3 linked regions of the Homo sapiens genome follow. The protein of the gene in region 2 purifies or fractionates together with the protein of the main gene of each other region. This does not show direct contact. Each region holds a gene or a part of one and is shown on either strand. Other genes may lie near its edges. The genes, in order: KPNA6, XRN2 and KPNA1.

What was found.
Region 1: the proteins of XRN2 (region 2) and KPNA6 purify together in Homo sapiens (affinity purification with mass spectrometry; 2 studies listed by BioGRID and IntAct, with this or other methods). This does not show direct contact.
Region 3: the proteins of XRN2 (region 2) and KPNA1 purify together in Homo sapiens (affinity purification with mass spectrometry; 4 studies listed by BioGRID and IntAct, with this or other methods). This does not show direct contact.

Annotation. Positions count from the first base shown.
Region 1 is NC_000001.11:32,169,975-32,177,668, reverse strand, and holds the end of KPNA6 (importin subunit alpha-7), read right to left. Parts: coding exon 7,609-7,694; intron 6,963-7,608; coding exon 6,775-6,962; 3' UTR 1,106-6,774; downstream 1-1,105. UniProt on the Homo sapiens protein: Functions in nuclear protein import as an adapter protein for nuclear receptor KPNB1. Binds specifically and directly to substrates containing either a simple or bipartite NLS motif.
Region 2 is NC_000020.11:21,325,155-21,336,840, reverse strand, and holds part of XRN2 (5'-3' exoribonuclease 2), read right to left. Parts: intron 10,563-11,686; coding exon 10,435-10,562; intron 10,352-10,434; coding exon 10,240-10,351; intron 8,283-10,239; coding exon 8,171-8,282; intron 6,361-8,170; coding exon 6,302-6,360; intron 6,226-6,301; coding exon 6,136-6,225; intron 5,281-6,135; coding exon 5,208-5,280; intron 5,074-5,207; coding exon 5,023-5,073; intron 4,559-5,022; coding exon 4,401-4,558; intron 3,298-4,400; coding exon 3,223-3,297; intron 3,138-3,222; coding exon 3,004-3,137; intron 2,905-3,003; coding exon 2,847-2,904; intron 2,764-2,846; coding exon 2,656-2,763; intron 1-2,655. UniProt on the Homo sapiens protein: Possesses 5'->3' exoribonuclease activity. May promote the termination of transcription by RNA polymerase II.
Region 3 is NC_000003.12:122,421,333-122,432,556, forward strand, and holds the end of KPNA1 (importin subunit alpha-5), read right to left. Parts: intron 11,190-11,224; exon of another isoform or gene 11,135-11,189; intron 6,385-11,134; coding exon 6,206-6,384; intron 5,841-6,205; coding exon 5,653-5,840; 3' UTR 570-5,652; downstream 1-569. UniProt on the Homo sapiens protein: Functions in nuclear protein import as an adapter protein for nuclear receptor KPNB1. Binds specifically and directly to substrates containing either a simple or bipartite NLS motif.

The sequences.
Region 1 (7,694 bases), on a different chromosome or scaffold from region 2:
CTAGGATTACAGGTATGTGCCACCACAGCCAGCTAACTTTTAAATTTTTTTGTAGAGACAGATCTCACTTTGCTGCCCAGGCTGGTCTTGAACTCCTGGCCTCAAGTGATCCTCCTACCTTGGCCTCCCAAAGGGTTGGGATTACAGGCATGAGCCACAGTGCTTGGCCTCTTTTTAAAAATGGAGACTTCAGGACAGTCTTTTTCAAGACAGACATTTGATTTAAAAAAAAAATGTTGGCAACTAATTCAAACTTAAACACGCTCTGCCAAGCAAAACCTTCCTGTGGGTTCAATCAACTTTCTGGCTGCTTGTCTGTAATCTCTGCTTTAGGAATTATCTAAACTGAAGGGAGGAGTCTGTGAACTATTTGATCTTAAGAGGTTCAGGCTGGGCACGATGGCTCATGCCTGTAATCCCAGCACTTTGGGAGGCGGAGGCAGGCGGATCACCTGAGGTCAAGAGTTCAAGACCAGCCTGGCCAACGTGAAACCCCGTCTCTACTAAAAATACAAAAATTAGCTGGGCGTGGTGGCGGGCACCTGTAATCCCAGCTATTTGGGAGGCTGAGGCAGGAGAATCGCTTGAACCCAGGAGGCAGAGGTTGCAGTGAACCGAGATCACGCCATTGTACTCCAGCCTGGATGCCAAGAATAAAAAACTCCGTTTCAAAAAAAAAAAAAAGGTTCAAAGGGCTGTAGAGTGGTGCTGATGAAACTAAGTCAAAATCATTTAGAGAAACTCTAGAAAATGCAAACTAAACTACAGTGACAGCCACAGATCAGTGGTTGCTGGAGGTGGGGCAGAAAGGAGGGATTCTCAAGCGGGAAGCTTACGGCTTATGAAGGTCATAGATATATTCACTATCTTGTGGTTGTTTTATGGGTGCATATGTGTTTCAATTTATCAACGTGTATATACTTTAAATATGTACAGTTTATTGTATGTCAATTATATTTCAATAAAGTCGATGAAAAAAACTTTAGAGCAGGTGCAGGTTGGTACAACTCTTATTTCCACTGTTAAGCTACAAATTTAAACACCTCCTCATTCTCTTCCCCCAAATCCAGTCTAGGGTCACTCCAAGCCAAAGAAGACAATTTAGAACTTTGCAACAGGTTTTTATTTTTGCTTTATATCTATTACAGTGTTTGAAACCTAAAGAAATACATTTTCTCTTCAAATTTGGATGTGTATATAAATAACATTTGTCTGGACTCAGCACACTCAATGCCATGTTTTCTTCGCCTATGTCTGCTCTGAAATCAAGCTGTGTCTGTCTACCCAGGGGCCCTGAGAACATGGAAAATAGAGTTTATTGTTATTAGAAAAATAAAAGCAAATGAATTTGCAAAGAAAAACCAGTGAGAAGGATTAGATTCATCTTCCAAGGGTCCATAGCTGGTAACCCAAGCCATTCTCGGGGGATATCCAGTCTCTTGAGTGGCTGGGACTCCATTACCCACTTTCCTTCTTTAATAGGTCAAAGGCAATTCCCACAAAAGCTGGCTAAAAAAGCCGACACCCAACTCCAGAGTCTGAGGGTTCATGAAGATGTGGACTTTTTTTTTTGAGACAAGAGCCTCACCCTGTCGCCCAGGCTGGCACAATCTTGGCTCACTGCAACCTCTGCCTCCTAGGTTCAAGAGATTCTCCTGCCTCAGCCTCCCACGTAGCTGAGATCACAGGTGCCCACCACCACACCTGGCTTATTTTTTTTATTTTTTTATTTTTGTAGGGACGGGGTTTTACTATGTTGGTCAGGCTGGTTTTGAACCCCTAACCTCAAGTGATCTGCCCGCCTCAGCCTCCCAAAGTGCTAGGATTACAGGCATGAGCCACCGCGCCCAGCTGAAGATGTGGATTTTTTTTTTTTTTTTTTTTTTGAGATGGAGTCTCGCACTGTCACCCAAGCTGGAGTGCAGTGGCATGATCTTGGCTCACTGCAACCTCCGCCTCCTGGGTTCAAGTGATTCTCCTGTCTCAGCCTCCCAAGTAGCTGGGATTACAGGCGCCTGCCACCACGCCCAGCTAATTTTTTGTATTTTTATTAGAGATGGGGTTTCACTATGTTGCCAGGCTGGTCTCAAACTCCTGACCTCGTGATCCACCCGCCTCGGCCTCCCAAAGTGCTGGGATTACAGGCATGTGCCACCGCGCCTGGCCAGATGTGGACTCTTTAAAGACATGCTCTGAGTCAGAGGTTCCCAGCCAGTGTTAGGATCTCTGAGAGCTTACTTCCTTCAATGCCCCCCAGGCCATGGCGTATATAATAGTTACAGGAGAACAGGGCTGGCATTCAGCAACAGGGTTCAGGTACGAGCTAATGTGGACATCAGAAGTCAGCCTGGCCCAGAGGCAGCTAGGCAGGCCACTAAGATACACTACATAAACCTTTTCCCATGGTGTTCTGGGCCTAACATGTAATACTGCCTCTTCTAACTCTCACAGCCTGCTTAGGTTCTGCACATAGCCCAGACCTGAAGCAAAGCGCCCTTGCAGAGAAAAAAATAACAGCTTTAATTCACAGATTTGGTTGGTCTTGACCTCAAGTTCTTCCTTTGCCACGGTCTAAATCAGGGTGTGGGGCTAGAGGACAGATAATGAGAGACTGAATCATTTATGAAGGCCTTGGCCAAAGAGCAGCTAGTGCCCACTACATGGATCCCAGCAGGGCCAAATTCTCAACTTGTTGGCTTAACAAAAGAATGAAAAAGCTCAAACAGAAAACATACTGGACAAGGTTGGTCCAGAACATGCAATCCTAAATGGCTATGGAATAAATTTATTCTGAGCAATATCTCAGTCTCACACTCACTAAATTCTAGGGTAGTTCTATTGAAGATGTTTACCATGGTTTAGCGCACTGAGCCCTGCACCCTTCCCCAGGCTGCCAGGGAAGCAGAGAGGTACAAACATTCCTAATGCCCCAGTCAGCCTGTTCTCCCTATGGGGTCCCTGGATTACCTGCAGGGACCTGGGGGAAATTGGCTCCCTGTCTTCAGCTGAGAGTCTGGAATCTGAACCCTAGATGAATCTACTGAAGAATGCTCAAGATGATGGATACCAAGCTGAGTGAGTCTAGGGGAGAAGAGAGGCCTGAACAAAAGAGCTGGGGCCTTCAAAGAGGTGTATGAGAGGTGAGGTTAGTAGTGCCAGGCTTTCCTATCTTTTCCTTCTAGTTTGCTAGAAACAAGTACAACTTTAGGGTGTGGGGGGAAGGCAGGTAGACATGAAGAAATGGAAATACAGTTCATTCTGCTAGACATTTTAAACTGGTTTGGCTTGAGAAAAATAGAAAGTCTGTGCCTGAGAACCTTCTTTTCCTCTCCCTTATTTAAGTACAATAGCAGCTATAATCTGTGCAGTTCAGCTCCAAAAAACAGGGCTCCTGGAAGATGGCTTTCATGGCAGAGAGTTGATGGGGTAGATTAATGGGCTCTAGGTAAGGAGCAACACCAAGGGTCCCTGAAAACTGAGGCCAACACCTGCTCCCTGGGGGGGGGCCATTTGTATTCCCTGACCCATGTAACAAGCCTGGCCAGCTGTGGGTGGAATCCATGTGGTTCTATCAGAAGGCTGCAGCCAACATCAAGGCCAGGCAGTCACCAGGGTCAGCTGGGATCTGAAGGGAGGCTTCTAAGACCAGACACCCTGTTAGTACTAAAGATGATGATTTGGGGGTGGGATGCCTGGAGGGGCTGGCACCATTCAAAAAAGTATTGGAAAACATTAGCCAAGAAAAAGGCTCCTTGTCCCTCCTAATCCATATCCAGATACCCCCAACCAGAGATCTTAAAAAGGATAGACCAGCCATATGCCAACATGCCAGGATTCCAAAAGCATGCCTCAACTAATTAGGGTATTCCCTACAGCAGACTGGGGTAGAGGGGCTCCATCCTGGCAATAACCAGAGAGCCTTACCTCGCCTAGGCCAGGGTATGGAATCTAGATGAAGACTGTCCACAAACAGTGGCTCTCAAGCCTGGGCTAAATAAATAATATTTTGCTTCATTACATGGCCAAAGGAGAGGAGGAGATAGAAAAGATGATATTACTACCTCTGTGGGCTGGAAGAACTTCACCTGTTGGTTGAAAGGGGATTAAAGGAAGATAACAGGAAAACCTGGTCTGGAGAAGACATAAATGAAAGCTCCTGGAGGCCACTTTTCTCTGATTAGAAATCTATCCTCACACTCTGCCCCTAGTAGACTTTAGCCTTTGGAGTTCTTAGGGAAAACTGGCTTTAAGCAGCAGCCAGATCACCAAAAACATTTTCCATCTGGTACAGGACCCGGAGCTGAAGCCAAAGTAGATTTTGGAGGAACAGCTGGACAAGCAGGATGTGTATGTCTTACACTAAGAAACTGGTCCCTGTATCAGGGACTTAACTCTTACTTGAGATGTACAAAGTAGATCCTACTAAATTGCCCTTTGGAAGAGAACAATGGGCGGAGGTTGGGTAGGGGAAGGCTTTTTTTTTTTTTTTTTTTTTAAACTGTAAGAGAATGGTTTTTTAATGGAGGTAGCAGGCCAAGTGAAAAAAAGATTCTGCCCCCTGCCTTCCTGGGAGATTGGGAGTTGGCAGCCATCATTCCCAAGCTGATGAGTGGCATATGACTCACCAAGGTGGTACAACATGGGTGGGATTTTTCAAGGACAATTGCCAGACCTAAACCATCCTCCTCAGAAAATGGCTTTGAAGTGGGACTGCAGCACTAGGAGAGGGCAAATTCAAGATCAATGGCCAATAATAAGTACCTGAACTTTAGGTCTATAAGCAGAAGGGCATGGATTTCACCTGAGCCAGAAGGAGATGTGTAGCAATAGAAGCAAGAATGGCATTGTTTCAGAGGAAGGAAAAGCAGAGCTTGGAGCAGGATGCCTCTGACTAACCACAGTGGGGAGGTGGGGGTGGGGCAGACTGTGCCTTCAGCTCCACAGCTGGTCTACACCAACTTCCTCTACTCCCATCCAAACAGGTGGGCTTTACTATCATATGTAATCCACCCAGAGGCACAGGCAAGCCACTAAGGCAATGCACTACCGTAATTCAAACAGAAAGAAGAGGCATCTGGATTATAATTGTCACAAGGAAGGGAAAACCCAAACCAGGTACAAGGATCCCAAACAGGGAAGATACGCAATAGCTCTAAAAAAAAAAAAAAAAAAAGCAGGCTACTAAGTTTCAGTGATAATAGATAATAGGAGAGGCAGCCATGGGTGATCAGTTATGTGGACAATGGCCATTGAGATTGAATTTGACAAGGCAAACTGCTTCTGAGTTTCCTGATACAAGCAGGATGTTCAGCAGTAAGGACAGAGTAGCAGACTTCACCAGGCCCTGAGGCCATCCTTGCTCCCTTCAGGTCCTGGGACAATCAGGCCACGCTGACCTGCTTTATGAAGGTTCCAGAGCTGAAGGTTGGTCCCAGGTGGTGGTCCAGAATCCAAGCAGAGAGGAAAAGGACCAAGCTCAGGCCTCCTGAGCGAGGAAGCATCCATATCTCTTTTTGGTCTTCCTCACAGTATCCTACTTACCGAAATGACAGACAGTTCTTCCTCTTGAGACCAATTAAGATTGACCTACCTAATATATAGAATATAAAAAAATACAGAACTTTTTGACATTCTCTCCTTTAGAAGTAAAATATACATGATCCAACTATGGAAGAGGAAGAAGAAGAAGAAGAAAGGCCAAAGGCAGGGATCCCTGACTATCCCAATACATGACACTCTCACTCCACCCTCCTCTGCAACTTACAGGTCACCAGAGCAAGGACTTTCTCCTCAGGAGAAAGGAAGGACCACAGCCCCCTATCTCAAGCTTAGGAGAAAATACAGCCACCTCAGAGGTTCTCTCAACCTCGAGGGGGAATTTTCAAGTAAACAAATGAAGTTGGGTCGCACCATTTGGAAGGTGAGTAGGAAATATGGGATCAGTAGCTACACGTGGGAAGCCCCATCTGAAGGCCTGTGCTCCTCCCCTGCACTCCCACTGGTATACTTGAGACACTTCAGGAGAGTGAGGAGGATCCCCCAAACTAAAGAGGTCTGGGCAAAGAGTCAGAGGGAGGGAGGGACCTTTGTTTCATGGTAGCCTCCCCAGCCTCTAGTCCCAGGCAATGCAGGCAGCTGGGTTTACTAAAACCAGGAACTTGTGGCTCTTGGGAAGAGCAATCTTAATACAAGAAAAATGTGCAAAAGAAAAAAAAATTAAATAACTCAATCCAAGCGTACAAGATTAATATTCTGTCAGAGCAAGAACACTTTGTTTTGGATTTCTCCCTTCCCCTCCCACCTCCCACCTCTGGAATATACCGTCTGCTCAAGTACCCAAGATAAGAGTTACACAGATCAGGGCAGAGGACCGGGAAGAATGAAAAAAGATAAAGGGAAGGAAGTCACCACTGAAGAAAAAAAGAAAAAAAATAAAAATAAAAAAAGGTGCAAATTGATTACCTTAGTCCTCCTTTGTCTACCCCTGGGCTCCTGGGTTAAAGACATGTGTGCAGCCAAAATATAGTGTAAGGAAGAAAAACCCAACACGTCCCCTTCTTGTCACAAAACCCAAAGGTGAGCCTCAGATGGTTCTGTCTGTCCAGAGGGTGCTCCCTCCAGGGAAGGGGGCGGAGCAGGTCAAGAGCACAGTCTCCAGGGCAGCAGAGGTGTGTGGTGGCTGATGGTGGGGACACTGGTTTCCCGCCCACCAGAGGGCTGCTCTTCCGCTGGCTGGTGGTGCTTCCCATCCCCTCCCCTCCCTGGAGGCAGATATTATAGCTGGAAGCCCTCCATGGGGGCCTCAGGCTGCTGGAAGATGAACTGCTGTTGCGTTTCATCGACTTGGGGAGCCAGGCTGCTATCATCGTCTTCTACACCAAAGTAGTGCTCAATGAGGTCGAAGGCCTTCTGGTAGATCTCCTGGTTCTCGTGGCTCTGGAGAAACTCAATTTTATCCAAGCCTACAGTAGTAAGAAGGAAGGAGAGGGAAGTGTGAGTGCTTTTCTATGGGCAGGTGAAACATTTACCTATTTTTCCTTCCCTGAGGTATGTTAGTGCTTACAAACACAAGTCATATGATCAGATCACTCTTGGACCTGAAAGGGGAGAGTTAAGATTTCTTCTCAAAACTACAGAATCCCAAAGGAAAGAGACCAAAATGTCAGTTACAGAGGTTCTAGTCCTGATTCTGCTTTAAACTAGAAGCATGACCTGGGCACATCATCAGCCTCTCAGGGATGAGTGATGAGTTAATCCAGCACTCTTATAGGTACAGCCTATCAGAAAGAGAACTGACCTATCACTCCTTAGAAGGAGAAGAAACTGGTGAGAGACAACTCTCAACTCAAAAGATGAGCCAAATCCAAATCCTAGCTGTACCCCAGCTACTCAGCACATCCTGATTATACTCATGGTAACGTGTGAAACCCTGTGGATGGTGAAACTTGGCTAGGGCAGGAGCTCTTAACTGTTCTGAAGACACAGACATCAGTCTCATGGAAGCTATGGATGCTTCCCAACCCACACTCCGCCACCACCAACATATGTATACCACGTTGGAGGCCTACAGTCTCAGGTTCTGACCTAGATTGAGGAGAGGGCACATACCATAGGCTTCCTCTATGAGGCCACAATAAGGATTGACCCCTGAGCCACTGCGCTTGCCCTCTTGCTCTCCAAGCCGCAGGATGTTC
Region 2 (11,686 bases):
GAGGCCATCTCTCGTCACCTTTTCTAGAACTGTAATGCCCAACCTCTCCCTTCCCAGATGCCTCCTCACCTGCTTTAGTTTTCTTTGTGGCACTTATTCTCTAACACTTAATGAGGTTTACTTAGTTACTGTGTTTATCTTCCAGCTCTCCCAAGAGAATGTAAACTCCATGAGGGCAGGGATTTCTGTCTCCTTTTTTGTTTTTTGCTGTATCACTAGCACTCAGAACACTGTCTGGCACATGGTAAATACTTAAATATTTGCTTAATAAATGAACAACATTCCCAAGTTAAAAGGTAAACATGAAAGCTCATACAATAAAAAGCAACACATTTCTTGCCTAAATGCTCAACTTCAATAACAATTTTTTTTTCTTTGGAGACAAGAGACTTGCTCTGTCGCCCTGGCTGGAGTGCAGTAGCATGATCCCAGCTCACTGCAGCCTCCACCTCTTGGGTTCAAGCAATTCTCCTGCCTCAGCCTCCCAAGCGGCTGGGATTATAGGCGCCCACCACCACGCCCAGCTTAAATTTTTGTATTTTTAGTAGAGATGGGGTTTCACCAAGTTGGCCAGGCTGGTCTCAAGCTCCTAACCTCAGGTGATCTGCCCACCTTAGCCTCCCAAAGTGCTGGGATTAAAGGCATGAGCCACCACGCTTAGCCAATAACAAATATTAATGTATTCCTTTTCTATCATTTGTTCTGCTGGTCTGTTAAATGCCTATCTCTAAGGGTGGTAGTCACGCACAAACAGAAGACCACCTGGGTGGACCTTATGGATCTCTCCCTTTTTTGTGCTATGAACTCCTTTGGAAATCTGTCAAATGCCAGGGACATACTTCCCAGAAAAATACATATATCTGGAAACTTTCCTATTGCGTTTTTGAGGGTTTCCCCTGGTGTCCAATCATGCTGAAGGACATGGCATGACTTCAGGAACACCAACAAAGATCCAAAGCTTTAAAATGCCCTCTCCTGCCAGGTCAGCTGAAAAATCGTATTAATTAAATCTGTAACACTATGGTGTCTACCAAATCCCATACTTCCTCCTCTAATGCCAACTCAAGGTGCAGAGTCGGCTAAAGAGACAGTAGAAGCTACTGTAACTCAAGGTTTTTAAACCAAGTGGTACAAAGTATGTAGCAGCAGATCAAGGGATGCCACCATAATTGTTGAAAAAGTAGTTAAAAATGTTCCAATTGACATCTGATCTTCCAGACAAAGCTAGTTCTGTAATTTGAATTCTATATGCAAAAAACTCTTGACATCACATAAAAACATTACCAAGTACTGAAGGCTTTTGGAAAGAATGCTTACAGTCAACCCACTATGTTACATAAAATGACACCCAAAGTTTTAAAAATAAGAGATCACTAGCTACAGTATACAAAGTTGATGAAAACAGAAAATAAGATTCAATGACACATTTTAATGTGCTGGGAGATCATGAAGCAATGTAGCAGTAATATATGTTGTTATCTGCTTAAAATAGCCACATGACTTTTATAAAATCAGTTTCTGAAAGGATTTCCTTGCTGTTTCTAAGAAGCTATTACCTGCTTATTTTGCCCACTGCTGGCCTCCCTTGCTACACCCTGCAATCACCCTCCAATCACTCTGCCTCCAGGCTGCTGCTCCTCCACTCCTATCAGCTCACCAGTGGATCCCAAACCCTGTCCACGGACGAAGTGCCTGTCCATCTCACTGTGACCCCTTGAGCATGGCTTCCCATCTCTTCAGGAATTTCCTTCTACCTCTCTATAACTGGCTCCTCTTTCTCTTTAAATGTCCGTGGTTCCCTAGGCTTCTATTAAAGGTACTTTTACTCCACACAAGCTCCCAGGGTCACACTCATAGTACACTCATAGTTTCAAGTATCTTCCATTAGTTAATGGTTCTCAAATCTCTTCAAAAGACTTCTGCCCTGAGCTTTATACACATTCAACTGCTTAATGGACTTTTCTCCTCTCAGGTGTCCTACAGCCCCCTCACATTAAACATCTCCAAAATGAAACTCAGTTTTTACTTTGTCCCCACCCCAACCCATTCCACCCCTAGTGCTTGCTATCTTAGTAAATGGCACCAGCAAATTCCTAACTGCCCAAGCCAGAACCTGGACTTTTCATGTAAGCGCTCATCCATAATATGCAATCAATTTTCAAATGCTTTGCTATTTTATTTCCTTCTTGTGTTTCAATTTTTTAAGAGATTCAGCTCTCCACAGATCCTACATTCTCCCAACCCTCTGCCCTGGCTGATATAATCCAACCCACACTCCCTACATTGTCAATTCTTCTTAACCTGTCTTCCTGCCTTCAAAACATGACAGCCACTAGTTCAATCCCAATAGACTTCCAGCCTTGGTACCCGCATTTCAAATCCTATTGATTAGAAATGTGTTTGGATTTATATTCAGATTATGAAGACAGAAAAAACATTACAATGCAACTCAAACAGGGTACAATACATAGTTCCACAGAGCAAGCAGCACAACCTTTATAAAATAATCAAAGCACTGACCACTCATGATTACATTAGTGTTGACACACCATAATGATATAAAAACACACTCAAAGAGATTAAAAGTAATCACAGGATCATCATAGCCTATTAGAGACAGGAGCAATTTTAGCTACTGCAATAGAAACACTTTACCTCATCATCCTTTCTCTTTTTAAAAATGCTATCCTCAACTTCACCAACTGCTAACATGATCATCTGTACTCTTTGCAGATTGACATAACCACTTTCTGTAAGGTAACCCTGTAAGTGATAAAATATATGTAAAATGATCTTCTTATAAAAGCAAATACTTCTGTTTTGAAATCATTCAAGAATGAACTTACCCCAGTTTTGTGTACCACATTTTTGTATATGTTAACCAAACGGTCAATTGCATTTTCCCTGTCAGCAAGAGACAAACATTATGCATTAGGACCAGTAGGCACAGTAAAGTCAAGAAGCCTAAAACAGTCGTTTGAAAAGCTACACAAATGCACATACCTAATCTCTAACGATGGCAAATGAGGGAGGAAGTCATTTCCCACAAAGAAGCACATGAAAACCCAGTCATCAATGCTCCTCTCAACATCAAATGTGAATGGTAGGCTGGCCATTGTGAGTTCTCTTTCCAAATACTACAACCAAAAAGGAATGCTGCCATTACAGCTATCAAAGGCACCCTGCTTTAGAGTGCTGATTTCAATGATTATTGCTACATACCTCACGAAGAACATTAAGCCGAAGGAAGATAAACTCTCCTTCTGCACAAGGAAGACTATCGGCAAGTTCATCATGCTGCAAGAACAGGAATGAAGATGAAACAAGTCTACTCTACGTCCAGTAATTTTTTCCAACCAAGCAAATTTTAAGGCTTTTTCTAACGCACAATCCATTTTAATATCACAAGTATTTAATTTTTAAAAGCTCACCAATGCATTTTAAAATAAAAATTACCCATAAAATCAACCACGTCTAGATCAGGGGTCAGCAAACATTTTCTGCAAAGGGCCAGACAGTAAATTATTTTGGCTACTGGGGGACATATATGATCTCTGTTTAATAGTCTTTCATGTTTTATTTTGTTTTTAACAACACTTTAAAAATGTAAAAAACATAGCTCACAGGCCAAACCTGGAGGATTGAAGTTTGCCAACTGATGACCTATACCCAACCAATGATTACCCCTTCCTTGTGAACAGATGTGCATAGATACATGTATACTGTCTTTATTGTATTACATATCTGAAATAATACACTATATTTATCTCTTTTTTCACTTAACGATGTCTTTGAAAGAGGCACCATATTCTTTTTCCCCCCTCAAAAAGCATATGACTCAAGAGGCACCATATTATTGAAACAGAAGCCCCTTTAAAGGGGACTGGACATAACCAAGTGAACCTAAAATACATAAAAAGTGGGAGTAACTTAAAAGTCTTAAGAAGTTGTAGTTCCTTTTAAGAAGAGTATTTCAAACAAATAACTTCCACAAACAAATTACAAGCTATGGGCATTATTATCTATGGGAACTAAGCCTCGTGTAGATATAGGCAATATCAGAAAAAGTGCTAAGTAGAAAGGATGAGTGTGTGCATGTTTTTGAATGCAGGTTTATTTTAAAGTACTTTAAAAGATTCGTCTCTGTCGAGACTGTCTCAAAAGAAAAAAAAAAGAAAAAAGATACATCTCTGTGAAGGGTAACGGTAACAGAACAAGCACATAAAGAACTAATCAACCACAATCTTCTCTTCATCCATTTTAAAAACAAGGTAACTCAAATATTTAATGCTATTTAATTGTATACTTTAAAATGGTTGAAATGATATTTTATGTCATATACATTTTACCACAATAGATTTTTTTTTTTAATGAGGCAACTACCATCTCAAAGTTCTTACCTTTCCCTTCTTTTCTCTTGGCAAACCTTCACAATCTTTGACCTCATGTCCAAACTGATTACAAAGACCACATGGTTTGGGCTTGTTTGGTTTGAATTCTTCTCTAATAATGGTAAAGTTCGGTTCATGTGTGGCAAGGCCAAGCATAATGAGATCAGCTATCAATCAACAATGAGAAAAACATCGAACAGTGAGTATTCTGAGAGAAGTCTTACCATAAACTACTATGAGATGCCAACACAAAGAAAAGCCCAAATGAGCACCCAAATGAGCAGCAAAGCCCCAAAGCTTGACACTTCCTGGCATTTCCCAGTTAACAGGAAGTCCTCTAGATACGTGGACCTACAACATAGACTGCCACTAAGGATTAAACACTTGGGAAATTCTCCATTTTAAAGGTATGGGGAGTTAAAAGGTTGAAAAATGTAAGAAAGAAGAAAAGAAATTAAAGATCATTGACCACAGATTAAACAGCAACTCAATACTAGTTCCCTGTCGAACATAAAATAACCAAGGCATTTTGGAACTTCCAGGTAACCATGAATAATCCATTACTGCACACCAACCCATCAACTTGCTATGGTTTAATCCAAAAGAAGCAAATCCCAAAGAAGAAACTTACCATCTGCTCCACATAAACAATGATGAGTATTTGGGTCATGGTTAGGCTGGGCTAAACAAGAGAGAAACATGTATTTATATTAATATATTATATACCACAAGAATATCACTTCATACCAAGTATTTTCTATGCAATGGCTTTTTAAAAATAGAACATATAATCAAATATTGGTAAGTAAGCTTTACCTCTTTGCCTTCTAATGTAATCCATGATTTTATGTTCTCCTTCACCAGGAGCACTAGCATCAGATAAAATAACCTATAAAAAAATTGTTAACACTTTCAGATTATCCCCAATTTTCTATAGGCACAAAAATCAAAAGAATTATATGTCTCAAGAAAAACTGAGATAAGTGTTACGGGAAAATTTTCTGAATAAGGGTGTGTGTGTGTGTGTGTGTGTGTGTGTGTGTGTGTGTGAAAAACACCAAAACTACTTCACTGAAAATTTTCTGAATAAAGAAGGGGTGTGTGTGTGTGAGAGACACCAAAACCACTTCATTGATTGACTTACTACATGTAATGGAAAGGAATGAAATGTCTGGGTCAGACCTAGCCATCAGAAAAACTGATCATTCACAAGCTCCTATTTTCACTACTATGCAAGGATATAGTGCTGAACCATATATGCCCCAAGAATAATCAATAACACATATCTATAAAATATAATTTACCATTTCTCATTAATAGGGAAGCCAGCTTATGAACCTAAAATTACAAACAAGTTCATTTACATATTATTTAAATATTTGGGAACACAGCCATTTAAGACAGCCCCACAACTTACTAATTTTGCTGTATATTGATATGTAATAATGGAAATTTCCATTTAAAAATTACTTTCCTATATATATTTTTTAAATTATGAATCCCATTTTATAGCTTCATAGTGATGGTAAGAGGACAAAATTGGCTTTAAGAGAAAATTCAGCTATCTAAAACCTAACCATGCAAGGATACCCCATCTCCAAAAACCCTGGAAGCTTTTCTTTCTTCCAACAGTCAACTAGCATTTTATGGGGCAGGGCAGAAGGATAAATAATGTCAGTCATATCAAAGTACAGCCTCGAATGATCACCCTAATCTTTCTGAAGTATCAAAATGTGAAACTTACTGTCAAATTTTTCCACCCAGGGTCATTATTTAAACGATCAGCTATGTAATAGCGAAGGCATTTAGCAAGATTGTCCATGAATTCAGTTCCCTAAAATGATAGAAAGAAATAAATTAACCTATCATTTAAGAGTTAGCAATAGCTAGCAAAGTATGAGACTACTTACTGGTGTAATACAGTTGCTGTCAAATCTTTCTTTTATTTCTTCTGGAGGAAGAAAGCCACCTAGAGAAAAGAGGCAACGTTTTGTTCTCCCCATAAAAAGTGAGATAAATTACTCAACATTAAGCCAGAACAACAAAAACAAAAAGTTCCACTACAAAAGAAAGTGAAGTCTCGTCATCCGAGGAAAAATGTTCCCTCACTGGGAAGAAAATAAGATTCCATCTCTCAAATTTAAATTATTATTATTATTATTATTTGAGACAGAGTCTCATTCTGTCACCCAGGCTGGAGTGCAGTGGTGCAATCTCGGCTCACTGCAACCTCCGCCTTCCGGGGTTCAAGCGATTCTCCTGTCTCAGCCTCCTGAGAAGCTGGGATTACAGGCGCCTGCCACCACGCCTGGCTAATTTTTGTATTTTTAGTAGAGACGCAGTTTCATTGTGTTGGCCAGGCTGGTCTTGAACTCCTGACCTCCAGTCATCTGCCGTCCTCGGCCTCCCAAAATGCTGGGATTACAGGGGTGAGCCATCGTGCTCAGCCTTTTAAATTATGTTTTAATAAGACTGTAAAACAATATATGGTACACAAAAGATATTATATTGTTACATAAAAATTATGAAGTTCTTCACTCTGTAAGAGAATACACACACACACACACACACACACACACACACACACACACACCAGTTAGAGGCCATATTTTTTGATAACAGTTCCTAAAATAAAGGTGCCTAAGAAAAATGAAATTTAAAATGCCGAGTTCATCACAGCTTTACAGGATAAGAAATACAATTATCAGGTAGAGGAATATAAAAATCCTATTTTTTCCTCTCTATCACTATTAGCTGCTTCTCAAGAAACAAGTATATTTCATCACATCTTCAAAAAAAAGACATTCTTAAAATCAGAAACATTGTTATAAATACAAACAGGTTTTAGAGTCTTAATTACAAGTTGCAGCTAAAGGAACTATATACTTGTACACTTCCAGCAAAATTCAAGTAATATAAAATTTATTGTAATTGCAGGCCTGAGCTGGCTATACTATGGCATCCTTTTTCAACTGCAGAGTGCAATTATCCGGAGCCAAGACACTGTGGCTTTTCTGGTCTATTATACCCCCTTAAGTAGCAGAACACCAAACAAACCTGCTACAACCATACCCTACCTCACACACAGGTGTGGTAGGAGAGAACCAGTCCCAACTGGCATCAACACTCCCTGATCTTCCTTTTCTCTGAGGCTTAGTCAGTTCCTACCCATGTAGCCACCAGGAATTTTAAGGCTTTGGGGAACTGCAAAAATGAAGACATCCCACCCTAACCCCTCCAAACTTGAAGGAACCATAAGTACTGTGCCTGCTCCATCAACCTATATTGAAAGTATGCAAATGACTTGGCAACAGCCTGTAAATGTGGATCGAATCACCTCCGGCTTCCTCAGATAGACCTCTGAGTTTCAAAAAGCAAGCAAACCAAAGCTGATTTGAGGAAAATGTTTACAGCACTATAGCTTTCTGACAGCCGCCACAGAGAAAAGTAGTAAAAAATACTTACTATATTTCTATTCTACAGAGACATAAAAGTTTGTTAAAGAGCTGCACTGGCCCTGAGAGGAGTTGACAATCTGCAATCTCCACCAGAATTCCCTATTCCCAAGGCTCCCTCTTACTGGAGAGTTTGAAAATAAACAAGCCTATTAAGCCTATTGGTAGATTTCATGAACTACTTTTCCTCAACAGTGAACACTGGATATTCTGGGATCCTTATTAAATTAAAAGCTTGCCTCTTTGTAAGAAAAAGTTGCCACCACCCCCTCATTCTGCATACATCTTATGAAAAAATCCAACTTCAAGATGCATATTCTTTACCTTTTGCCAATATTTCTTCCCTGACTCGCTGCTTCTCGACTGCTGCTTCCATTCCTTCTTTTGATGCCCTGAACCTCCTTGAACGCTGCTGGTTCATTTTAGCACGTGGTGCCTGAAAATGTATTTCATATTCCATAACACTCATCAAAATATTCACAAATAAATCTGTACCTTATTTTGAATCAGTTGTTCTTATAAAAGCAGTACACTAAAATGGAAGAAAGGTAAGTAATGTGTCTAATAATCCTTTCATGACAGATACCAGATGCTGAGAACTTAAATTTGGACCGAGAACCCAAAAGCTGAGCTCAATCAGGTGAATGAGTGCCACGTCAAATGGACAAACATCCTATGAAGCCCTAGCACTTATACTTCAAGCCCTCCCAGTCTAACACCAGTTCCCCTCGGTTAGGGTGCTTGATTCAGGGCACCCAAGAAAGAAAGCTCACTTTACTCAAAAGACCCAGCCAACATCTGATGAGCAGTTACTACTGAACTAAGATCAGGAAGACATTCTCTATGTCCACACCTAAAAGGAAGAATGGTGTCCAAATGGGATCCACAATGTCTCATAAAAGCAACAGAAAACTATTTCTTTATGTGAAGAATCTCGGTGCACTTCTATTTCCCACAATAAGGTTTATAATTTTTCTGTCTTTTCAATAAGGCATAGCAGTTAGAAAGAAATAATGCCTTAACCAGAAGTACTTTTAAATCACTCTAACCAAATGCAATTTCAGTGGAAAAGCCCAAATAAAGTGAACTAGATTGTAAGATTTTCGAAGTTACTGAACTGAGTTTTGGGGTGGGAAGAAACTGTGAAATATCCTGTTTACATCTAAATGTAAGTTATTTAATATTCTCTTTAAACAATTCCCTTTTCTGTAGAATGAGACCATCTAATGAAGCCCTCTCAAGTACAAAGTTCTGTATCTACATTTATATATAAACAAAAAAATGTGTGTATAAACATGTACACACACATGCATATAAATGTGTACATATTTTATACTTGATGTAGCAGAAAGAACACACTGGAGTAAAGCTAAAGATTTCTTCAAAAAAAATTAGCTGAATATAAACTGAAATGTGCTCTAAACAAGACATATTCCTTTTCTTTTTACTCTTTACTCCATTCTAACTGCAACTTAGCAAGTTATCAGGTAGCTAAGGTTTTTCACTGAGTAAGACGAATCTCACAGAAAAGTTAATCTTCTTGGATTCAAAGTTCTCTGAATTTCCAAAATCATCCCATTAGCCGCTAGGATGCACTAAAATTAAAAGAATCTACTTGCAGATAGCTAAATAAATTTAGAGTTATATCTTACCTTACCCCCCTAATAGAGTTTGCTGGTCATTTATAAAAGGAGCTACTTGGTATTATTATCATAGGTCAGTAACTTACTCCTCTCAAATCATTTTCATGACTACTCATTGCCTATAGGATACAGTCCAAACTCCAGACGGTAAGGCTTTCTCAAGCTTTTGCTATACTTCCCTTCTCAATTCAAACCACCTGTAGTTGCCAAAACATGTCAGTGTGGTCAAAGGCACGGAAAGTGTGTTTACCTGCCACATTTGAGAAATCTGGAAGGTCCTCCCTCCCCAAACCCTGTCCCATCCATCTCCCACCACCACCCACCAATCTCCCAATTATTCTTCATTGTTAAAGAAATGGAACAAAAGTCACCTCTTCTCTATATCCTAACTTCCTTAGTAGCACTGACTTCCTCTTCCCTCAACACCCTGCATGTATTATCTAGTGCTTATAATGCCTATAAATAATTAAGCTCACCCATTTATCTATGCCTCCTTCCCTTTGACAGTAAGCCAAAAGTTCAAAAGCAAGGGCAGTCGCCAACATCCCCAGTATTTCACAGTACTGAGCACAAAATAAGCACAAAACACACACACAAAAAAACATCTGAATGAATGACTGAAGGATGAGGCTTTCTTTCTCAAGTTCATCACTGTCAACATTTTTCATTATTTAGCTGACTTTCATTCTAGACACTGGTAACACAGCAAAAAAAAACAAAATGGAGGCTTCTAATTATTTTAGCACTTACCACTCCATCTATTGCCATGTAGAGAAGTCTTCTTGGTCTTACAATACTGAAAAGTCTGTCAATGTACTCAAAAATTGCAACCATCATTTCATCTTCATTTTTTGGTGCTGGTCTATAATGACAACCAAACAATGTAATATAATATAATGTTTCCTCTGTGATTTGCTATATCAGTGACAAAAATGGGTTACGTACTTGTCTTCAGGATGAGTACAGGGATGGATGATTCCATTCATATCCAAATACAGATTATCAAACTCCACATCATTTGGATTAGGTTTACTGGCATCAACTGGAATCTTTACACCATTGCATTCTTTTGGCTATGAGGAAGTGATAATTAATAGTAGTTTGATTGTTCAAGTCTAAAAATGACAGATCCTAGGCTCAATATGAACTTGTGTTTCATTTCTGAACTGGAAATAAAACACTTCAAGTAACCTTTAAATTATAATAAGTTATTTTATTCCTTAAAGCAAACTGAAGCAGATATTTTATCTGTAGAAAGTGGATGGCTTCTAACACAAGTTATTTTTGACAATGTAGATGTTTAGAAAATTCACAAATCATTCAGGTTGTTCAAGTGAGAAATCATGGGAGTCATCTTAAAATTCATTTCCCTCACCACTCACATCAGTAAGTCCTGTCAAAGTAACGTAAAAAATGCTTACCTACTTCATCTCCTTTCATTCCCACCACCATGAACAACAAGAAGTTACCATCTCTAACCTAAAAGAGCACAACAACCTTCATCTAGTCTACCCCACCTCTAGACTCTCTGGTCTCCAGCTCACTTTCTGCATTGTCAGAGTTCTCTTTCTAAAACATAAAAGTGTACGTCCTTAATCTTACCTAATTTTTCTAATGATTCTCACAGCAGGTGTTTATCAATGAGCCTGGAGCCTTCCTAGTCTCCTATCCTGCCATACTATTGTTGAAGCCCACTCACTCTCTTGTAAGTTCCTGGAAAATGCCTTTTGATCTCTCAATGCCGTCACATGATGCTTCTTTCAGAACACCTTCTTCCTCCCTTGTCAACACCCACTTCCTGAAAAATTACTAATTTCCAGGGTCTACACTCAAATCAAATGTCACTCACTTTATAACACCTTGTACATATCTCCCAAGAAATTGTTCCTTCTGAATTTCCTCATAATTTTGCTTATTCACTTGTAGCACTTCCACTGTTTTACAGTTAGTCAATCTACCCCAGCTACATTGAGTTCCTCAAAAGATAAGGGCTTACTCACTGCCAGAGATACTCAATTATGTTTTTGTAAATGTTACTTCCTTTGTTTTTCTCTTCCAGAGCCTCAGCAAGAGATTAAGACTATGAGATCTAATTTTTACTATTAACAATAAAAGTCACTTAAAAAAATAACAGTTCCTCAAGCACATATAAAGCATCACTTGTAACAGCAAAAACTGTAAGCAATTTAAAAGCCCA
Region 3 (11,224 bases), on a different chromosome or scaffold from region 2:
ATAGCCTAAGGCAACCAGCAGCTTCCACGTCGGTTGGATATTAATAAATTTTTTTCTTTACTGTAAAATATACCCATCAGCTTTTTTTTTTTTTTTTTTTTTTGAGATGGAGTCTTGCACTGTCACCCAGGCTGGAGTGCAGTGGCGCAATCTCCACCCACTGCAAGCTCTGCCTCCTGGGTTCACACCATTCTCCTGCCTCAGCCTCCCAAGTAGCTGGGACTACAGGCGCCCGCCACCACACCCGGCTAGTTTTTTGTACTTTTAGTAGAGACGAGGTTTCACCATATTAGCCAGGATGGTCTCGATCTCCTGACCTCGTGATCCACCTGCCTCGGCCTCCCAAAGTGCTGGGATTACAGGCATGAGCCACCGCACCCGGCCACTAGCTTTTCTAAGACACTTTGTTTGTTTTTAAATACCAGACCTCTGCTATGACAATGTTTGATTTTGTAAACTTCAGGTCAAATCATGTCTTCTGAAAAGTAACTGCATATAAAACACGTTGAGACATTTGCTTAAGATGTTGATCCTGGTTTCAAGTAACAGCATAAGGGAATTCCTTTGAATTTTCTTTTATCAAGCACCCTTTACTAACATCACAAAGATGCATGCATATTCCTTCATTTAGTATTTATTGAATGTCTACTATGTGCAAGGCACTCACCCATGGCCTGACAGACCACATTCAAGTACAAAGAATCATTAGAGCCATTCCAAATCTAAGTGTCAGAACACTTTGAAGCAGGATGTAGAGTGGTCAGAATGACTTGAGGTAAAGCAGAAACACTCAACAACCAGTACATTAAAAGGTGATTTTAATTTTTGACATTCCTTGGGATGATATTCCTTTAGGAAGAAGTAGACTGTGTTAAATTCGCATCCATGGCACTGCTTCCTGAGGCAGTAATTCTTCAAAGCCTTTCCTTCCGTGTCAATACTTTCCACATTTGTGCGTTTGAATGGATCCATGTGTTTAGCCATTATTTTACTAAACACAAAATCATTTGCACAAAAAAAAAAAAAAAAAAAACCTATTACCATACTTGTCTGGTCATACAGAATTTTAGCACCACAGAAGAGGAAAGATGTTTGGCCTGAGAGGGCCTACACTCCAGTCTGTGTAACCTAAAAGCAACTTAAGCCTGATTTCGTCATTTTAAGGGTGCTGATGGTAAGCAGGAGTCAGGAAGAATGGTCTAACAAAAAAGGCTGGCCCAGCTGTGGTTGCCAAGTCTAGTTCTGGGAGATCCTGGGCACGGAACTACTGCGTGGCCACTGCTTTCTTCAAGACACAGAATTTGCAGGGCTCTTCCCCGCCCTTGGACAGCCATCTAAGTGTTGTAACCTTGGGGCAAAGTAATTTCTCGTAAGTCTTCACTTTGTCATCTATAATATAGTGACAATTATCAAAGAACATTTGGAAGACTACATGAGAAAAAAGGAAAGCCCTTAGCCAGGTATCTGGTGTACAATAGATGATCAAATAAAGACATGTTACCTTAATTTGACCTACAGGGAAAACACTCTGGGACTTCGTTTACCCTTAGTTGAAAACAGAACGGAACACTTCTTTTCTTTCTTCTTACCCCAAGCTTCCAGATGTATTTTATGTCCAGTAGCAATTTGATATTTTAAATTAGCATATAAATATTTGCTTTATCAGATATTCTGATGTCCTGGTATCCATTGTTATAACCTGTATATAACCTGTAATCCTGAACTGCTGGGATTACAGGCATGAGCCACCACATCCGGCCATAAACCCAGTAATTTTGTATGGCAGATAAAACATTTTATGGAATATTCTTTATGATAGCCAACTTACTGTAGTAGTCACATCTGACCTTTGATAATTTTTTTAAATTAAGTTCTGATGACAGGAAAAGATAGACCAAAATATTTCCCAACCTGGCAGATATATACTTAATCTGTTCAGCTCACAACAGAGAGAAATGGTCATATTGAGATGGATAAAAATTCAGATTTGAGACTTCCATGTATATAGGCATACCTGTGTCTGCAAATGAGCACATTTTGGAACGTAGGAGTTAGCATACAGTATGAAAGTTGAAAGCAAACAATGCTGGTTTCTAAAAGTGGATCCCTTTTCTTCACTGAACATCATCCTTAGACACCACAATTTCCAATATACTTAAAAACCATCAACCCCTAAAAAGTTATAATGATTTGCCTATTGATATAAAAATTTTCACAAAACTAGCGAGAAAGAAAAACCCCTTGACTCCAGGAAAACCTTTTCATAATGCATCCCCCAAGTTGGGGGATTAAATCGCTGAAATGTTTATTTAGCACTAGAGAAGTAAATTCAAAGTTGCCTGTGGGTAGACGTACAATAGAATTGGTTGACAAAGTTTGGTTTATAAAATATACTTACATATTGTTTCTTAGGCAAAAATCGGCAGCAATCTGGAATAATTCAGATTTTTTATGAGATTAATTGCCAATCTTTTTATCTGTGACGATAATGCCAAAAATGACTCAGAGCCAATAACCTTCATCTGTCATATGGAAGAAACAATCCTAGGGCAATAGTTTTTTCAAAAGCGGAACTGACAAAGATAAGCGTTTAAAAGGGTCTTGATCAATTAGTTACAGGAACATGAAAGAAAGTGTTCCACAGAGAACTGTGTCTCCTAAAATCTCTTTCTTCTATCATCTACCTTACCCAAAATTTCTCAATCCAACCACATCTACCTGCTGGTCCATCAGATACCAGATGCCTTTACATCCAAAATTCTCTTAATGCTTTTTTTCCCCCACCAAAGTTCTCATTACAAATAATATAGATTGGAAGTTTGGAGGATGGAGGGGAATAAAAAGGAAAAGTAAAACAAAGTCACTTTCCCCAATCCATATATAAAACTACAAAAGAGTTTTCCTGTATTGAAATTAACATGCTTTTGTAATGAGCAACGCCTTAGTGGTAGGGTATTCAGTGAATTTAAACTAAGTTAACAGAATCTGAGAGGCAAAGAACTAAAAACAGGATATACAGTTACCCCTTAAAATGTCATTTCTGTTACCAAAAAGCCTGCTTCAGTACCAAGTTCCAACATATCTGAGTTATGCTACTTCACTTTTAGCCAATTCCAACTTTGATACTTTAAGAAAAAATCATTTTATTGTTAAAAAAGAAAAAAAAACTTAGATCTTATAGTTCATGAACTTCTAGGACAAGATAAATTCCTCTGTTTTAGACACAAAATAGATCACGTCAGTTAAATAGACTTTGTTTTAATTCACTCACTGAAACATCTCCAACTACTAGCAAAAATTCCGAATGTCTGAATGCACACTACTCTTCCTAATGTGGGGAGACAACTGTGTGCTTTGTATCTTTCCCACTCAAATTGGCTTATAAAATGAAATTATTTTAACTATCCAATGGAAGGTACATAATTTAAAACATCCTATAGAAATGACATGTTACTAGTAATTTACAATTTTAAAAAACAGCCACAAAAAAGTCAAAGCTAAAAACAAGATTTTTACTATGAATCAGTGCTTCTATTATCCTTCTGAAAGAAGTTATATTTTAATGTGATGTAAAGGCAACATTGAAATTTCTTCTTTAAATTAACCACCTAATTTATCCCTAAAATTACAAAGAATCAGTCTTTTACAGGTCAAGTGCAGTAAACTAAAATGTTCTCTCAGCACAAAGCAGCACTAGAAAAAGTAACAGTTATAGATGGGAGTTGACTAGTTTTGCAGTGGCTGCGCCATCAATAACAAACAGACATCAGACGGTATCCATCCCAGAGCACAGACACTACTACAGACTAGATGCGAAGAATGCGTCACACTCTTGGCTGATAAATGTCCTTTGTCTTTGACTCTTTCTAGTTTGAATGAAGTGGATTTTTTAAAAGTTTAAATCAGGTCACATAAGTTGGCTGCTTAAATAACATCATGATGAGGTATGAAAAGCTCTGAATATCCCTTACATTCAGCAGGATTTACCAGAGATGTATAATAGCTTGTCAGGGGCAACTTCCAAATAGTTTTTACACTTTGGGGTTATAATGAATTCTAGAAGAGGACAAGTCTAAAAAGGTTTAAAAGGGTATGCTCTGAAACAGAGGTGAGCAACCTTTTCCTTCAGAATTCACTTTGAACAGCACATCAACAAAAAAATCTTCTCTGGTAGTGTATCCCAACATTGAGTCAAGATGGCCAACTAGCACCGAGAAGTCGTATTGAACTCATTTGCAGTTGTCTTGGCAATTAAGCGTATTTTTTCATTCCAGTCCAAGCACAAATGTGGATCACTGAACACAGTACTGGAAGCGCCATTTGCAGGTACAGATTGCAGTCATCATTAAATGAGCCAGAAGGCAGATACTGTTTTTATTTTGTGTGGGGGGAGGGGGAAGCGGCACAGTACTAGCAGGAGATGAAATAAAATGATTAGGAAACAATGAGGTTATAAGATCACTGTTCTTATTTGGGTTAAGCAGGTCATGTTGAGAAGATGGTTATTTCTTTCAGATAAGGATGCTACATTAAAGGAATCGTGTGCAGCATGAAAAGATTAGAATCGAGCTGCACCTAAGAAAAAAATCCCAAAGTTACTTTCAAAAGTATGTGTTATCTGCCAGTCACAGAGGGGAAAAGCACCTAGGGTGAACTCCAATTTTTTAATGAGGACCTTGATCAGGACCACAAAGCCTGAAACATTTATTTTAATGCAGAAACACAGCCCCTAGTTACACTGATTGCATTTGGGAAAATTGGAGGGTTTTTTCGTCCTTAGTTTTTTTTATTAAATTACAGGATATGGTTTTCGATTACTAAGTATTCGAAATCCTCATACCAGCAACAGAAATGAACCACTTCCAAATTCTAAGACACAAAAGACCAAAGAGAAGCAAAAGCGATACAAATTAATATGTGCCCCTCTCCTTTCTGCTCTAAGGGAATCTACAAACCAGTATCACATTTAGGAGTCAAAGTGTTAATTCTTCAGCATTCCTGACAACTAGAAAGCACATTCACTGAAGGCTGAAGGTGAGGGAGTGGATGGTTTAACTTTAATATCTGAAGAATGGCGCCAATAGAGGAAAGAAAACCATCCAATCTCAGTAAGGATTAATGCAAATCTGGCTAGAAAAAGCCACCAGGTAATCCAAGGGTTCACTGTGGAAGAACTCATGAAAAGTACTCTGAAGTATACACAACAGGTCTAAACATCTCCCTTGTCGTAAGTAGTTGTGTAAAATTCAAGATAAAGATTTAGTCTCATCTTTTAATGTCAGTTTTTTCCCCCATGTTAAAGGGAATGAGGAGGAGTCCTCTTTTATTCCCCCACAAGAAAAAGGGAGCCACATTAATATGTGTATATTCCCATAACTCTAATGTAAGTGCGGATCTCCAAAGCCTAGGGATTTTTCCGTAAAAGAGAGTGGGCCGTTCTGGTTACCCTTTTATTAGAAGGGTATTCCACCACAGAGAGCCGGAGGTTTTCCAGATGTGTGTAAGAGAGCAGGTGCGCAAGGCAAGCAAATGAGCGCAAACAGTATTATGGAAAACATTTGAGAAGTTAGCTCCATGAGGACTGTGGGCTCCACAAGAGGACTCGACTGGGTAGCCTGGTCTGACACAGGTACGTGAAAGCAGAGTATTGCTTCAAAGCTGGAAACCTTCCATAGGAGCCTCACACTGTTGGAAGATGTACTGCTGCTGGTTAAGGTCAACCTGGGGTGCAATGCTGCTGTCTTCATCTTCGGTCCCGAAGTAATGCTCAATAAGATCAAAGGCCTTTTGGTAGATCTCCTGGTTTTCATGACTCTGTAAGAACTCAATTTTATCCAGACCTAAAATGAAGAATAAAGGAAAATCTTTATTGAAAACTTCAATAAATATTGGAAATTCCATAACTATATATTCCTAAACTATATTTTGTCATATATCTCTGTTCTTGATGTAAAGAAAGATTATTTGTATCTCATAAGTATTTTATAATAGCACAGAAATGACTGCTGGGATTACATCTGAAAGCTAGTATTATAAACTGACATCTTAAATACATATGCAAGTAATATCCAGTCTGCAGAAGCAGCAATTTCCTAACAGTCCTCTTTTCATCCAGTGCCTAGCAGTAGTAGTATTGTTTTTACTGAACTCTATCTATGACCCAATTCATTCTTGGCCATAAACTTCTTCAACCAAAGCATCTTACCATAAGCTTCTTCAATCAAAGCACAGTAAGGGTTAATGCCAGTGCCATTCCTTTTGGCTTCCTGTTCTCCAAGCCTCAGGATATTTTCCAAGCCATTTAGGGCAACCTGTACAATCTTAGAGTCCATGACCGTGAGGAGATCACAGAGCGGCTTGATACAACCCAGTTCTACTAGGTACCTAAATACAAAGAATAATGTAGTCAAACAAAACTTTTAATTTTGTTAAACTTATGAAATTAGTGAGCAAGTCATCCTCAACTTCACTGCAGAGACTTAAAAAAAAAAACAAAAAACAAGCACTCTTTCAACCATACAAGCTATACCTTTTCACAAAACAAAAACAAAAAACCCTCTAAATAAATTATCCCAAACCAGTTCTCTGGCACCTTTCTCCATTCTTTTCTCTTCACAATTTATGCATTCCAAAAACAGGAATACTTACTTATTAATACCTTGAAATGAGCGACTCATCAAAATAGTATAGGTTTGAGTAATTTCATCTTTGTTTCCATAGATAGCCACACCTCTCAAACATGACACTCTTGGTGCTAAAAGCCAGCACAAGCCTGATAAGCCAAATCTTTCAAAGATGATTAGAATTTTAGTAAAGTAAGTTGTGGGAAGAATAAACAAATGTCAGAGGATTCTAGAACTGGTATTTTTCCTTTAATTCAAGCAGAATGTATAACCGTATGTAATCAAGATTAATCATACTTGAACTTCAGAGACATGATTACTGTATCACATTCACAGTAAATAGTCATGTCATTTTTTATCATTCTGGTTTCTCAAGTTGAGTACAGAGAGGCAGGGATAATGAATCCAGTTGCATTATGTGAATGTTTGGTAAGGTCATTTTGAAACTTACTGCTAGTGCTAATCTATTTCTTTCTCACATATTGCTTTTTTGTGTGGGGGAGGAAGAATTCAAAAATATATAAAAATAAATCTCTAGCCAAACAAGAAAAAAGGAGAAAAGACAAAATTACTAATATCATGAAAGAGAATCATCACTTGATCTCATGGATATTAAAAGGATAATAAAGGAATACTACAAACAACTCTATGCTCACACATTTGATCATTCAGATGATAAAATGAACAATTTCTTGAAAGACACAAACCACCAAAACTCAGTCATGGAGAAATGACTGATGTGAACAGGCTTACATGTATTAAATAAATTGAATCATTAATAACTTCCCAGAATAGAAAACATCAGGATGAGGGTTTCACACTGGTGAATTCTGGCAAACATTTACGGACAAAACGATACTAGTATTCTACCATCTCTTCCAGAAAACAAACAGTGGGGATACTTCTTAACTCAATCTTTGAGGCCAGCACTTCCCCAATACCAAAATTAAATAAAGACATCATAAGAAAGGAAAATTACAGACTAATATGTCTCATGAACATGAATACAAAAATCCTCAACAAAACATTATCAAATCAAATCCAAGAATGTATACAAAGAATTATATACCAAGTGGATTTATTCCAAATATGCCAGGCTGATCCGTCATTTTAAAAAAATGAATCAATGTAATCAACTTACGATCATTTCAACGGATGCAAAAAAGCATTTAACAAAATCTAATACCTATTCATGATAAAAACTCAGCAAACAGGCCAGGCATGGTGGCTCAAGCCTGTAATCCCAACTCTTCGGGAGGCCAACGCGGGTGGATCACCTGAGGTCAGGAGTTCAAGACTAGCCTGGCCCACATGGTGAAACTCCGTTTCTACTAAAAATACAAAAATTAGCCAGACATGGCAGCGGGCACCTGTATTCCCAGCTACTTGGGAGGCTGAGGCAGAATTGCTTGAACACAGGAGGCGGAGGTTGCAGGAGCCGAGACCGTGCCACTGCACTCCAGCCTGGGCGAAAGAGCGAAACTCTGTCTCAAAAAAAAAAAAAAAAAAAAAAAGAATCTCATTTACATCAGCATCAAAAAAGTGTAAATCTAATAAATATGTACAACAGGATATATATGAGGAAAACTACAAAACTGATGATCTAAAAAAAAAAATGGAGAAATATTCCATGCTCATGGACAAGACTCAATATTGTTAAGATGGCAATTCTTCCCAACTTGATCTATAGATTCAATGTGATACTCCCAAACAAAATCCCAGCATGTTAATAGATACCAACAAACTGATTCTAAAGTTTATATGGGAAGGCAAAAGGCCCAGAATAGTCAATACAATACTGAAGAACAAAGTTGGAGGAATGACATTATCAACTTACTATAATCTAATCAAGACAGTGTGGTATTGGTGAAAGAACAAACAAAAAACCAGTGGAACAAAATAGAGGGCCCAGACATTCACAATACTTGAATGTTTGTTCCCCTGATGGTATCCTAGATGCCATTTAGGCTTTCTTTTTTAATTATTTTTTTCATTCATTCATTCATTCATGTATGTCTGACTGAGTTATTTCAAAAGACCTATCTTTAAGTTTAGTAATTCTTTCTTCTGCTTGATCTGATCCACTGCTGAATATCTCAACTGTATTTTTATTTCATTCATTAAATTCTTCAGTGCTGGGAATCCTTTTTTATATGTTATTGTTGCTTTTTTAATTGTGTGGTGGCAGGATGGTAGGAGATGCTCATAACTTTTGTTTTGTAAATCTGTATTCTTTGATTTAACCCACCACCACTACTACTGCCATCATTCACGGATTCACCAAAAATTGGATATTATCATACTTGTTTTTATTAATCTTTCTTACATTTATGTATAGCTGACATCTGTTTCAATGTTTAATATTAGAAGGTTTTTGGGTCTATATTTTGAAGGTTGGGGATGTTTCCTTGACCAGAAATATCACGTAGTAACTCAACTGATTTATATTAATTAGCCTATGATAAAATTGGTTTTGATATATACAATGTTTCTCTTAAAGTCAAAGTTTCCTGGAACCTATCAATGACATTAAGTGAGGACTTCCTATACTGTACTACCAGTGTGTGTGTGTGTGTGTGTGTGTGTGTGGTTTCTCAAATAAACTGTGTGTGTGTGTGTGTGTGTGGTTTCTCAGATAAACTGTGTGTTTGTGTGTTTGGTTTCTCAGATAAACTGCAAATTCATGCACAGACCCACACAAAAAGAATAGAAAGCCCAGAAACACACCCGCACAAAAACAGTCAACTGATCTTTAACAGAATAGCAAAGGCAATTAAATGGAGAAAGGATTCCACCTTTTCAACAGTGCTAAAACAACTGAACATCCATACAGAAAAATAATGAACCTAGACACAGGCCTTACTTTGTGTCACTCGTGAGCTTAGACAGGCCAAGTCTTCCCAATACCCAAGACTGAGGCTTTCATCCCAGTATTCACCAGTCGATTACTTAATCATCCTTGTGAAAGAACGACCTATAGCAAGACTGACCTGCCACCTCCAAAAACACTGCATTCTCTCACTTTTCCTCATGCTATTCTCCCCTCCAAAACTGCCAATTCTCTATACAAATAGTAAGTTTCACTTCTTTGATGAATGTTTCTCTAATTTCAGTTAATAATCCTTATCCTTCATTAAGAACATGTGTTATATATGTATTAACATTTGATTATATTCAACCTAAAATTCTAGATGTTTCCTAAAACATTCTTTTTTATCTTTTGAGACAGAGTCTCTCACTCTGTCTCCGAGGGTGGAGTGCAGTGGCACGATCTTGTCTCACTGCAACCAACCTCTGCCTCCTGGGTTCAAGCCATTTTCCCACCTCAGCCTCCCAAGTAGCTGGAACTACAGGAGAACACCAACACGCCCAGCTAATTTTTGTAGAGACAAGGTTTCTCCATGTTAGCTAGGCTGGTCTCGAACTCCTGACCTCAAGTGATTTGCTTGCCTTGTCCTCCCAAAGTGCTGGAATTACAGACATGAGCCACCACACCCGGCCAAGATATTTCCTAAAATATTCTAATTGTTTCTTGCATCCAAATCTGGTATCTGCAACAAGAAGCAGCAGAAGCCAGATAGATGTCTTTTATAAGTGATAAAGTCAGTTTGTTTTTTGTAATTTGGACTGTAATATTTTTGTGACATTCTTTCAAGATAACTCTTCATGTGGGGAAGAAGAAACTGCTAGGAGGTTGGTAATTAATTTTATTATAAATAGCTATGCTGAATTTTAAAAAGGGACAGCAGCAATTCTGCGCTTCTCTAACAGAGCAAAATACTCCTGAATACTTTCTCATGAAAGATGGCATAATAAAATATATATGTTTATGGTTTATTTCTTCTTCTTCTTTTTTTTTTTTTGTTGAAATGGAGTCTCACTCTGTCACCCAGGCTGGAGTGCAGTGGCATGATCTCAGCTCACTGCAACCTCTGCCTCCCGGGTTCAAGCGATTCTCCAGTCTCAGCCCCACAAGTAGCTGGGATTACGGGTGCACGCCACCACACCTGGCTAATTTTTGTACTTTTAGTAGACACGGGGTTTCACCCTGTTGGCCAGGCTGGTCTCGAACTCCTGACCTTGTGATCCACCTGCCTTGGCCTCCCAAAGTGGTGGGATTACAGACATGAGCCGCTGCACCCGGCCTGGCTTATTTCAATTAAGAAAATATATTTGCTATAAAATATAGAGACAATTAATAACTATAAATGTGAATTTGAACATAAAGCTTATTCAAATAACTATAGTACTTCATTATTTTTACCATCTGGTGACAGCATAATTAAAATCATAGTACTCTAGAATCAGAATTTTGGAGGTTGGAAAAAACCTACAAGACAAATGTGCTTCTGTCTCCCTGAAATAACCTGCCCATGATGAACTTCACCAAAATAGCTACTGCATATGTTAATCTGTTTGTAATTTTATTCTTTCAGGTACATATTTCTTATTTTCTCTACCTGATAAATTTCTGTACTTTGTTACTATTTTTATTTTTTAATTCCAAACAGAACACTCAAAACTAGCATCTGATGAATGCCTACATTCAGTCCACAAAGCAACAATGTAAGTAGTAGCTATGTTTGTCTGATATTACGTAT